Regions from separate parts of the Homo sapiens genome. Here region 1 is linked to region 2. Evidence: fine-mapped expression QTL. Tissue or cell type: whole blood. Region 2 holds a variant in brackets; the other region holds the start of a gene. All regions are shown on one strand. Distances are from middle to middle.

What was found. PIP is the estimated chance that this variant, and not a neighbour inherited with it, causes the effect.
Region 1: it holds the start of RPS14, and the variant in region 2 is fine-mapped to the expression of RPS14 in whole blood (TOPMed, PIP above 0.99).

Annotation. Positions count from the first base shown.
Region 1 is chr5:150,447,798-150,453,200 of GRCh38, reverse strand. RPS14 (ribosomal protein S14) reads left to right here and starts at 3,462. Exons shown (of 5, transcript NM_005617.4): 1 at 3,462-3,498. RefSeq lists enhancers at 3,074-3,393, 3,007-3,945.
Region 2 is chr5:150,424,873-150,430,764 of GRCh38, reverse strand. No RefSeq gene overlaps it. Among named protein-coding and RNA genes, the nearest start is that of CD74, 15 kb to the right of the region's middle. RefSeq lists enhancers at 868-917, 1,258-1,307, 1,946-2,445, 2,446-2,947. The variant C/T (reference allele first, on the strand shown) is at 2,505.

The sequences.
Region 1 (5,403 bases), 23 kb before region 2:
CTGATGTATCCCAAGTATTTACAATGTCAGACACATCCTAGGTGCTCAGTGAGTGCTCCCTGAGTGAGTGTGTGAGCTCTGAGAGGGGAGGGTAAGTACACCCCTGTGCTGGCAGTGTTGACAGCGCAGGGGTGCGGTGGGGTGGGGAACGCAGACATGGCAACAGTGAGGTGAGGCCCCACGGAAAGTGGCTGTGCTGCCCCTCCAGCCTCAGCCCCCATTCCTCTTCCCTTATTCACAACACCCCAGTACTACTGGCCATTTTTTAATTCCTTGAGTTCTCCAAACACCTACCCACTTCAGGGCCTTTGCATATTCTATTCTCCCTGCCCAGACCATTCTTCACACCTTCACGTAGCTAATTCCTACTCTACTTTCAAGTCTCAGTTCAAATGCCATGATTGTATCTCAGTGCCTGACAAAGAGTAAGCGTCCAATAAAGGTACAGGTTTTTGGCTGGGTGCGGTGGCTCATGCCTGTAATCCTAGCACTTTGGGAGGCCGAGGCTGGTGGATCACCTGAGGTCAGGAGTTCAAGATCAGCCTGGACAACATGGTGAAACCCCGTCTCTACTAAAAATACAAAAAATTAGCCAGGTGTGGTGAAGGGCGCCTGTAATCCCAACTACTTGGGAGGCTGAGGCAGGAGAATTGCTCGAACCCGGGAGGAGGAGGTTGTGGTGAGCTGAGATCGTGCGACTGCACTCCAGCCTGGGCGACAGAGTGAGACTCTGTCTCAAAACACAAAAGATACAGGTTTTCATTACACATTTTAAAAATATATATATTGGGTCTCACTATCGCCCAGGCTGGAGTGCAGTGGTGTGATCACAGCTCACTGCAGCCTTCACCTCCCAGGATCAGGTGATCCTCCCAAGTAGCTGGGATTATAGGTGCAGGTCACCATACCTGGTTAATTTTTCTATTTGTTGTAGAGAAGGTGTTTCACCATGTTGCCCAGACTGGTCTCCAACTCCTGAGCTCAAGTGATCCTCCTGCCTCAGTCTCCCACAGTGTTGGAATTATAGGCGTGAGCCACTGAGCCCTGAAGTTTTCAACATACATTTAAAAATGTACTATTATCGGCCAGGCGCGGTGGCTCACATCTGTAATCTCAGCACTTTGGAAGACCGCGGGGGCTGGATCACCTGAGGTCAGGAGTTCGAAATCAGCCTGGGCCAACATGGTGAAACCCCGTCTCTACTAAAAATACAAAAAAAAAAAAAAAAAACTACCCGGGTGTGGTGGTGTGTGCCTGTAGTCCCAGCTACTAGGGAGGCTGAGGCAGGGGAAGGCAACAGTGAGACTCTGTCTCAAAAAAAAAAAAAAAAATGAATAAAAATAAAAATATGCTATTATCATCCCATTTCACAGATGAGAAAACTGAAGCCCAGAGAGGTTACAATTTTTGCCCAAAGAACCATAGCTAATAACTGCAGAAACAATAAATATGTTGATTAAATAAAGTGGAGTTTGAAAGCAGTGACTTTGATGGTTTCTGGGATAAAGATAGGCTTCCCTGTGGAAAAATTTGTCCTGAGGTGATTGTGTGGGCTGCCTTCAGCCATAAGATCAAGGCTTGCTCCCTCCATGAAGCCACATGAGGTTTGGAGGTCTGTTTAATACAACTCTTAATCAAAGCGGAACTCACTCCACAATACTCCAGTCTCTGCTAACATACTGGGAAGCTCATTAAAACAAAAAAGCCCTCTCCTTCAAAAAATACAGACATTTCACAGAAGAGATGCAAATGGTTAAAACAATCCGTAAAGAGATGTCTGACGTCACTCATCATCGAAGAAATGCAATGCAACGAGAAGGTATGTTGAGGCTGGGTGCATTGGCTCACGCCTATAATGCCAGCCCTTTGGGAGACCGAGGCGGGTGGATCACCTGAGGCAGGAGTTCGAGACCAGCCTGGACAACATGGTGAAACCCCGTCTCTACTAAAAATACAAAAATTAGCCGGGTGTGGTGGCGCACACCTGTAATCCCAGCTACTCGGGAGATGAGGCAGGAGAATCACTTGAACCCAGGAGGCGGAGCTTGCAGTGAGCCAAGATGGCGTCACTGCACTCCAGCCTGGGCAACAAGAGCCAGACTCCGTCTCAAAAAAAAAAAGAAGGTATGTTGAGTTTTTCAGTTTAGCAGAATAAATTTTTTTTTTTTTTGAGACAGGGTCTCGCTGTGTCACCCAGGCTGGAGCCACGGGATATATTTATATATTTAAAATATATTTATAATATTTATATAGTATGTAATACAAAAATACTATATATATTCCATATAAATATTACATATAGTACATAGATAAAATGTATCTACCGCTTGCCTAGCTCTGTGAGGTACACTTCTTGGCCCTTCCCCACAGCTCCGACATATTCTCCCAAGCCTTCAAGGTCCTTCAATATTGTTATTAGAGGCTGGGCACGGTGGCTCACGCCTGTAATCCCAGCACTTTGGGAGGCCGAGGCAGGTGGATCACGAGGTCAGAAAATCCAGACCACCCTAGTCAACACGGTAAAACCCCGTCTCTACTAATACACACACACAAAAAATTTGTCGGGCGTGGTGGCACGCGCCTGTAGTCCCAGCTACTTGGGAGGCTGAGGCAGAATAGCTTGAACCTGGGAGGCAGAGGTTGCGGTCAGCCGAGATTGCGCCACTGCACTCCAGCCTTGGCTACAGAACAAGATTCGGTCGAAATATATACATGTATATTGTTATTAGAGGGCTATGTGGAAGTAGCTATTAAACACGAGGGCTTTGAAGCTAGAATTCCAAACCCTTCTGCAAAGGTGTGCTCTCAGTTAACATCCTTTATCTGTAAGAGGGAAATCAAAATTATTTGATAATGTCTTGAGGAGTAAATGAAGCAATGCATATAAACTGTTTAGCCCAGACCGGTCTGAAAATACATATTGAATAATTTATTCTTATTTTGCCCATTATATAATATGCCAAAGTAAGTGATTACGGTGTGTTTTCCCCGACTATGTTGCCTAGGCTGGCCTCGAACTACTTGGACGAAGCGATCCTCAGCCTCCTGAGTAACTGGGACCACAGGCCGGCGCCACCCTAGCTTTAATTAAGGCCGTTTTGTTGTTGTTATTCCCCTGCTCCACACAAGGGGCGCTGCCGCTCCAAGGCTGCCAGGGCGGGAGTCAGGATGGCGGAAGTCTGTCTAGCCACGACCACCGCCATCATGGAATACAGGCCCACCTCACCCCGCGGGTGTAGCCGCTTCGTACTGTCGCTTAGGCCGACCCGCTCGCAGCGACAACCAGCCCTCTACCTCTTTTCGCTCTCCCTTAAGTAATAAACCGTCTTTCCTTATGACGAGTCTTAAACTCTTTGGGAGGAATAATGCCGGCGTCTTCCGGAACCCGACCTCGCCCCGTGACCTCAGAGGTATACTTCCGGGACACGGAAGTGACCCCCGTCGCTCCGCCCCCTCCCACTCTCTCTTTCCGGTGTGGAGTCTGGAGACGACGTGCAGGTAGGAGGCCCGGGCGCGACAATCGGGGGGCATCCTGCGGCGAGGGGACCCTGTGGGGCTTGGGACGAGAGACGGGGGTCTTTCCGTGGGAACCGAGCTAGGTGCCGGGCAAGAGACGCGCGGCTGGCCCACCTGGATCCTGGCCAACTCGGGATTGAGTTCGTTCCTGGTCTCAGAAGGCCCGTTTTGCTTTCAGGGAGGAGCTTGTGAAGTAAGGGTGAGTGCGGGTCCAGCCTTTTAAGGCCTCGGCCCCGCAATACGGCCACGGCCACGGCCGCGTTTGAGCTGCACAGCGTAGTTGAGGGAACCCGGGACAGACGTGGGCTCCCGCCTCTACCTCGCCAAACTTTTTTCTTGGTGATCGCAGGCCCACGCCTAATCTCGTTTGTTTCCTCGTTTGCAAAATAGGAATAACAATAGCACCGATCCCATGGGTTTGTAGTGATCATTCAAAGAAGGAAAGCAGGGAAAACTCTCGCACTATGTTGGATGCTTCTAAATCTGGGCGATTCTTTCCGTTGCTGAGTCGGGCACGTTGCAAGTTCTGGGCGCTCAGGGCCCAGCACCAATGTTTGCTGTGCGCTTGCCCTGCGTTTATATACTCCTGATGACCACTCTGCTCGTTACTTTAGGGGATGTTAGGAACGGAGAAACTGCAAATTGGCATTTACTGAATGGCCATCATGCCGAAACATACTCATGCTTACGTATTTGAGATATGCTGGAGCCTTTCTATGCTTCTCGAGGCAGAACTTTGGGCTTCTCTCCTGTGGCGCGTTCCTTACAATAGTTAACGCACTGGGTCGTGCTCATTGGTCTGATTTGAAGATAGGAACATTTAACTTCGTACACCCAAGACTTACACTTGAAGTACTTACTGTGGTCACACACTTAACTAAAGTTTATATAGGGAAGGCAGAGGAGAGATCTAGGAACACCTGAGACAGACTAGGGTAGTTATTTGTGGTGTAGAGGCATCTTGGCAGGAGGCAGAGAGTGCTGGGCTGGGAGTCAGGACACGTTGTTTCTATGTTTGGTTTTGCCACTGTCTTTACTGTGACCATAGGCTGAGACACTCTCTATCTTCACCATCTGCAGGATATCGATTAGTGTTAGTGTCTTCTGAAAATGTTAAATTGTTCTGAACACCAGGAGGTTCAGAAGGCCTGGGGCTTTAGGCCGGAAGCAGTCTTATCCTAGCCTTCCACTTTCTCATTCATTCTCACCCGCCTTCCTCCTGTCAGTTTCTCTCTCCCTTAGATCTTGTGACAGTATGATTGCAATTATTATGAAGGTCATAATAGGTTAGAGTTATTTAGTCTCAGGACCCATCAGATTTCTGAGATGGGTCTTTTCCATTAGCCTGCCTTTTGGATATATTTTAGTGCCTTTGATATTTGATGTTGGTGACAAAGATTTAGTTCTAAATAGTTGTGGGAGTCAAATCAGTTGCATTTTTGAACATTTTGAAGGGATCAGGTGGAGCACAGGAAAACAGGAGATGAGAGGCTTGAGGGCTGTGTTGGTAAGGGTCCCTTGAATTCTAAGCTGAGGAGTTCATGCAGGAATCAAGCAGCTCCCTCGCCCCATGAAGGGTGTTAGGAATGGTACCAGTACATGGGTAGCTGTTGGTCTTGGGTTTCTTCTTGCCTTTTGGGGTGCAGCCTTCAGGCATCTGCTGCTAGATCCCTAGGCTTCTATCTTGTAGGTGCTGTGAGCTGAGCTGTTGGTAGTTTCTGGGGAAAGGATACTTCTCATGGTACTTTGCCATGTGGCCACAGTTGATACCCCCCCAAGTGCAAGGAGAAAGAAGTTTTAGTGAGGCAGAAATGAGAGAATACAGTAGAGTATTGGATGGAAGAAGACAGGGACATGAAGCAGGACTAGGGTTTCATTTAATAGCCA
Region 2 (5,892 bases):
CTCGTGATCCACCCGCCACGGCCTCCCAAAGTGCTGGGATTACAGGCGTGAGCCACCACGCCCGGCCCCACACTCTTAAGTATGGGGGCACGTTGATAACCCACAAAGGTACATGTTCGTTTCTCTCTTTAGGAAGTTTCAGTGTGCATCCTCAGCCACCTACTTGGTGGCTACAGATGAGTGCCACAGCAGAAGACAGCCAGAACAAAACTGGTTTCTACCTACTCCAGAAGGTGTTCTCCATCTCCCCATCTCAGTGGAGGCCAGCACCATGCCTTGCGCAGCCCCAAGCCTGGGCACTACCTTCACCTCCTTCTCCCTTCCTCCCACGGCAAATCCTGACACTTCTGCCTTCAAGACAGCTATGGAATCTGCCCCCTTCTTCTTCTCCACCACCACTCAAAGTCACCACCATCTCTAAACTACTTTGGCCCGTCACTGGTCTCCTGGTCCCATTCCTGCCCCCCAGCCACCCTCCCTGCTTTTTTTTTTTGAGAGGGAGTCTTGCTCTTGTCACCCAGCCTGGAGTGCAATGGCGTGGTCTCTGCTCACCGCAACCTCCGCCTCATGGGTTCAAGCAATTCTCCTGCGTCAGCCTCCCAAGTAGCTGGGATTACAGATGTGCACCACCATGCCGGGCTAATTTTTGTATTTTTAGTAGAGATGGGGTTTCACCATGTTGGCCAGGCTGGTCTCGAACTCCCGACCTCATGATCTGCCCTCCTCCGCCTCCCAAAGTGCTGGGATTACAGGCGTGAGCCACCATGCCTGGCCTCCGGCCCCCTTAAATCTGTGTGCTACGCATAATTTTCAAAGACAAACCAGACCCAGAACCTCCTGCCTGGCCCTCTGAGGGCTTCCCATTGTTCTTGGAATAATTCCCCAAGAGACTACCAGGCTACATGACCTGGTCCCAGCCTGTCTCTTCATCTGAAACGCCTCTCCCCGCTCATCAGATGCACTGCACTCTTTCTGTTCCTCAAATGAACTAATGCCTTCCTGCTTTTATGAATGACATCATCTTCTTTGCCACCTAAACGTAAAAGCTCAGTGGCACCTTGGTCCCACCCCTACCATACACAGTCTGGCCCGTGGTGTGTGGCCTTCTCCTGACCTCCACAGCCCCCAGCAGGCCTTGCCTCTCCAGCTTGACTTTCCACAGCCTCTTGACTGGGCTGCCTGACTCCAGCTGTGACCTGACCCCAGCCCCAGATGGACTCTTGACCCTAAGTCCAACACCAGCCTTCAGTAGTGTGGCCTCTAACACTTGACTCCTGCACAGACCGACTGAGCCCCACCAGAGACCAACTCCTCCAGAGATCAACCCCACCAGAGACCAACCCCACCAGAGACCAGCCCCACCAGAGACCAAACCCCACCAGAGACCAACCCCACCAGAGACAGACCAACCCCACCAGAGACCAGCCCTACCAGAGACCAACCCCACCAGAGCCCAACCCCACCAGAGACCAACCCCACTAGAGACCAACCCCACCAGAGACCAAACCCCACCAAAGACAGACCAACCGCACTAGAGACAGACCAACCGCACCAGAGACCAGCGCCAGCAGAGCCCAACCCCACCAGAGCCCAACCCCACCAGAGACCAGCCCCGAGACAGACCAACCCCACCAGAGACCAAACCCCACCAGAGACCAACCCCACCAGAGACAGACCAACCCCACCAGAGACAGACCAACCCCACCAGAGACCAACCACACCAGAGACCAGCCCCACCAGAGACCAAACCCCACCAGACGAGACCAACCCCACCAGAGACAGACCAAACCCACCAGAGACAGACCAACCCCACCAGAGACCAGCCCCACCAGAAACCAGCCCCACCAGAGACCAGGACTTAGCCCTTGCCAGGTGTCTCCCAATATCTCTAGGTCCCAGCTTCTAGTCCAGATCAGTGCCTGGCCCATAACCGGCACTTAACAAATATTTGTGGAGTGAATGGATTTTCAAGGGAGGACTCAGTCCCCGTCAGCCGCACTACAGCCATCACAGGTCCAAAGGCTGCACTACTTAGCCACCTGCCAGATGGTATTTGCCCTGGGAGAAGAGTGGGAAGTCCCCGATCTTGAATTGGTTGTAGAACATATGACCCTGGGCAAATTATAACCCTCTCCTGAGCTCCACTGACCCTTCAATAAGACGGTTGTGAGCAGAGCCACTCAGCTCTCTCTCCTGGAAGCCCTGTAACCACAGTCAGGGCCTTTTGTTTCTAAGCATTTCCTTGTCCAGTGTCCCCCCGTGACCTTCACAGCAGCCCATGAGGCACGGGGATGATCTGCCCATCTTGTACAGATCCCCCACGCAGCAGCCCTAGCCACCCTTTCACAGCAAGAGTCAGGAGGCGACTCCTCTGCTCAGAGCCTTCCCACGGCTCCCGGCTTCACTCGGCATAAAGCCAAAGTCCAGTGGGTGGCTGCAGGATCTGGCTGCACACCTCGTGACCTCCCGTCTGTCCCTCCCTCTCCCTTTTCCTCTCAGTCGCT[C/T]CACCCCAGCAATGCTGGCCTCCTTGTGGTTCGTCAACCAGGCCGGACACATTCCCACCATGGGACCTCTGCTCTGGCTGTGATTTCTGCCCGGTTGTGGGCTTGGTGAACTTCCTCCCCTCCTTCAGGCCTATGCTCAAATCTCACCTTGTCAATGAGGCCCATCCCAACACCCTATCAAAGACTACAACCTGCCCCCAACCCTGCATCTCCAGAAACAACTTTCCTTTCCTCCATAGCACTTACCACTCTCTAACAAAAGTATAATTTACTGACCTGTCTCCTGCCCCTGGAATGTAAACTCCATACGGATGGGGATACTTGTCTGCCTTGTTCATCCATGTATCCCAAGCTCCTAGAACAGTGCCTGGCATAAAGTATTCAATAAATAACTGCTGAACAAGTGAGAGAAGGGATGATGTATACTTGCCTGGGGCACATATGGAAGGTATAGGACTAGAGCCCAGGCCTGCTCCCTCCACACAAACAGCCCCCTTTCCAGCCCCTTATTCGTGGCCAAGGTGTACTGGGGTCCAAGAGGCCCCACACAAGATGGGTGGGCTGGGCCATGTGGGCTGGTGGGCAGGGCTGGGTGCACACTGCCTGCCTGCTTCTTGAGGCAGCTCATCAGGGACTCAGGGACCAAGAAGGAGAATGGGGAAGGGGAGGTCTCAGGAGACTCCACCTGCCCGGCTCACCCAGGGTGAACTGGTAGGAACTCACACCTCTGGGGCCTGGAGTGTCCAGACCAAAAGAGGGCAGGCATCTTAGAGAGTCACTCAGACTAGCTCAGGGGTGACACCAGGGATGAGACTCCCGAGATGAGACCCCCAGGAAAGTCCAGAGAGGGAGGATGAGGCTCCCTCTGGCTCTGTTGAGCAGCTCCAAATCTCTGAACATGCACAGGGTCCCAGATTCAGAATGAACAGGTTTATGGAAAAGAACATATTGCTGAACTCTCTGACATGTATTGCACGCTGTCTCTATGCCAGCCATGTGTGTATTACTTCACTCAATCCTTTCGCAACCCAATGAGATGGGTTCTATTAGCATGCCCATTTTACAGGTGAGGAAACTGAGGCACAAAGGATTTAAGTAACTTGCTAAAAATCATACATCTGGTAAGTGGTTTGACTTAGAATTTTTTTCCTATGAAAATAGAAAACTGGCAGAGTCTCATGTCTGTAATCCCAGCACTTTGGGAGGCTGAGGTGGGCGGATCACTTGAGGTCAAGAGTTCAAGACCAGCCTGGCCAACATGGTGAAACTCCATCTCTATGGAAAAAAAAAAATTATCCAGGCATGGTGGTGGGCACCTATAATCCCAGATACTTGGGAGGCTGAGGCAATAGAATCACTTGAACCCGGGAGGCGGAGGTTGCAGTGAGCCAAGATCACGCCACTGCACTCCAGCCTGGGTGACAGAGCAAGACTCCATAAAACAAAACAAAAACAAAACAAAACAAAACAAAAAAACACAAAACTGAAAAACAAAATAGAAAACTTCTCATAAAGTACTGAGACATTTTGATGAGGATTAAAACACACATTATGGGCCAGGCATGGGGGACCATAATGTAATCCCAGCATGTTGGGAGGCTGAGATGGGCAGATCACCTGAGGTCAGGAGTTCAAGACCAGCCTGACCAACATGGAGAAACCCATCTCTACTAAAAATACAAAATTAGCTGGGCGGGGGCGGCGCATGCCTGTAATCCCAGCTACAGGCTGGGAGGCTGAGGCAGGAGAATCGCTTGAACCCAGGAGGCAGAGGTTGCGGCGAGCCGAGATCGCGCCATTGCACTCCAGCCTGGGCAACAAGAGCGAAACTCTCTCTCAAAAAAAAAAAACCACACACACATTATGTGCCTATGCTGTAAAAGAGCCCATTGTCCCCCAGTTGTCAATATAACCACAATGGGAATGAACAATGTCTTCTTGGCAGTGAGGACAATTCCTGTACAAAGGAAACTGAGTTTGTACATAATTGACTTAAAATTTTTTCTAACCATTTATTAAGAAAAAATTTAACATACAGAAAAATTGATCAGATACCCACCACTTAGCTTCAACTACTATCAATTTCACTTCTCTCTCTGTGTTTTATTTTATTATTTTGTTTTATTTTTTTTTTTGGAGACAGGGTCTTCTCCTGTCACCAAGGCTGAATGAAATGCAGTGGCACAACACAGCTCACTGCAGCCTCAATCTCCTGGGCTAAGTGATCCTCCCACCTCAGCCTCCCAAGTAGCTGGGACCACAGGTACATGCCACCATGCCCGGTGAATTTTTTATTTTCATTTTTTCTTTTTTCTTTCTTTTTTTTTTTTTTTTTTTAACATTTTTTGTAGAGATGGGGTCTTTCCATGTTGCCCAGGCTTGTCTTGAACTCCTAGGCTCAAGGGATCCTCCCATCTTAGCCTTCCAAAGGGTTGTAACTACAGATGTGAGCCACTGTGTCTGACCTCTTACTTTTAATTTTATTTATTATTATTTTTTGAGACACGGTCTCACTTTGTCACCCAGGCTGGAGTGCAGTGGCATGATCTTGGCTCACTGCAGCCTTGACTTCCTGGGATCAAGCAATTCTTCTGCCTCAGTTCCCCAAGGAGCTGGGACTACAGGCACGTGCTACCACATCTGGCTTATTTTTTGTAGAGATGATGTTTCACCATGTGGCGCAGGCTGGTCTCAAGCTCCTGAGCTCAAGTGATCTGCCTGCCTTGATCTCCCAAAGTGCTAGAATTACAGCATGAACCACCATGCCTAGGTCTTTATTTTTAGTTTTTTGAAACAGGGTCTCTGTTACCCAGGCTGGAGTGCAGTAGTGTGATCACGGCTCACTGCAGCCTCCATCTCCTGGGCTCAAGCCATCCTCCCATCTCAGCCTCTTGAGTAGCTGGGACTACAGTTGTTTGCCACCAGGCCTAGATAATAAAAAAAAAATTTTGTGGAGATGGAGTCTCACTATGTTGCCCAGGCTGGTCTTGAACTCCTAGGCTCAAGCAATCCTTCTGCCTTGGGCTCCCCATGTGCTGGGATTACAAATGTGAGCCACTGCATCTGGCCTTTATTTCTATTTTTGAGAGAGAGTTTTGCTCTGTCACCCAGGCTGGAGTGCCATGGCATGAACACAGCTCACTGCAACCTCGAACTCCTGGGCTCCAGCGATCCTCCTGCCTCAGCCTCCTGAGTAGCTAGGACTACAGGCACGCACTACTATGCCTGGCTAATTAAAAAAAAAAATTTAAGAGGCAAGGTCTCTCTATATTGCCTAGACTAGTCTTAAACTCCTGGCCTCAAGCTGCCTTCCCAAGCAATCCTCCCACCTCAGCTTCCGAAAGTGTTGAAATTACAGGTATGAGCCACCACACCCGGCCACTCTCTC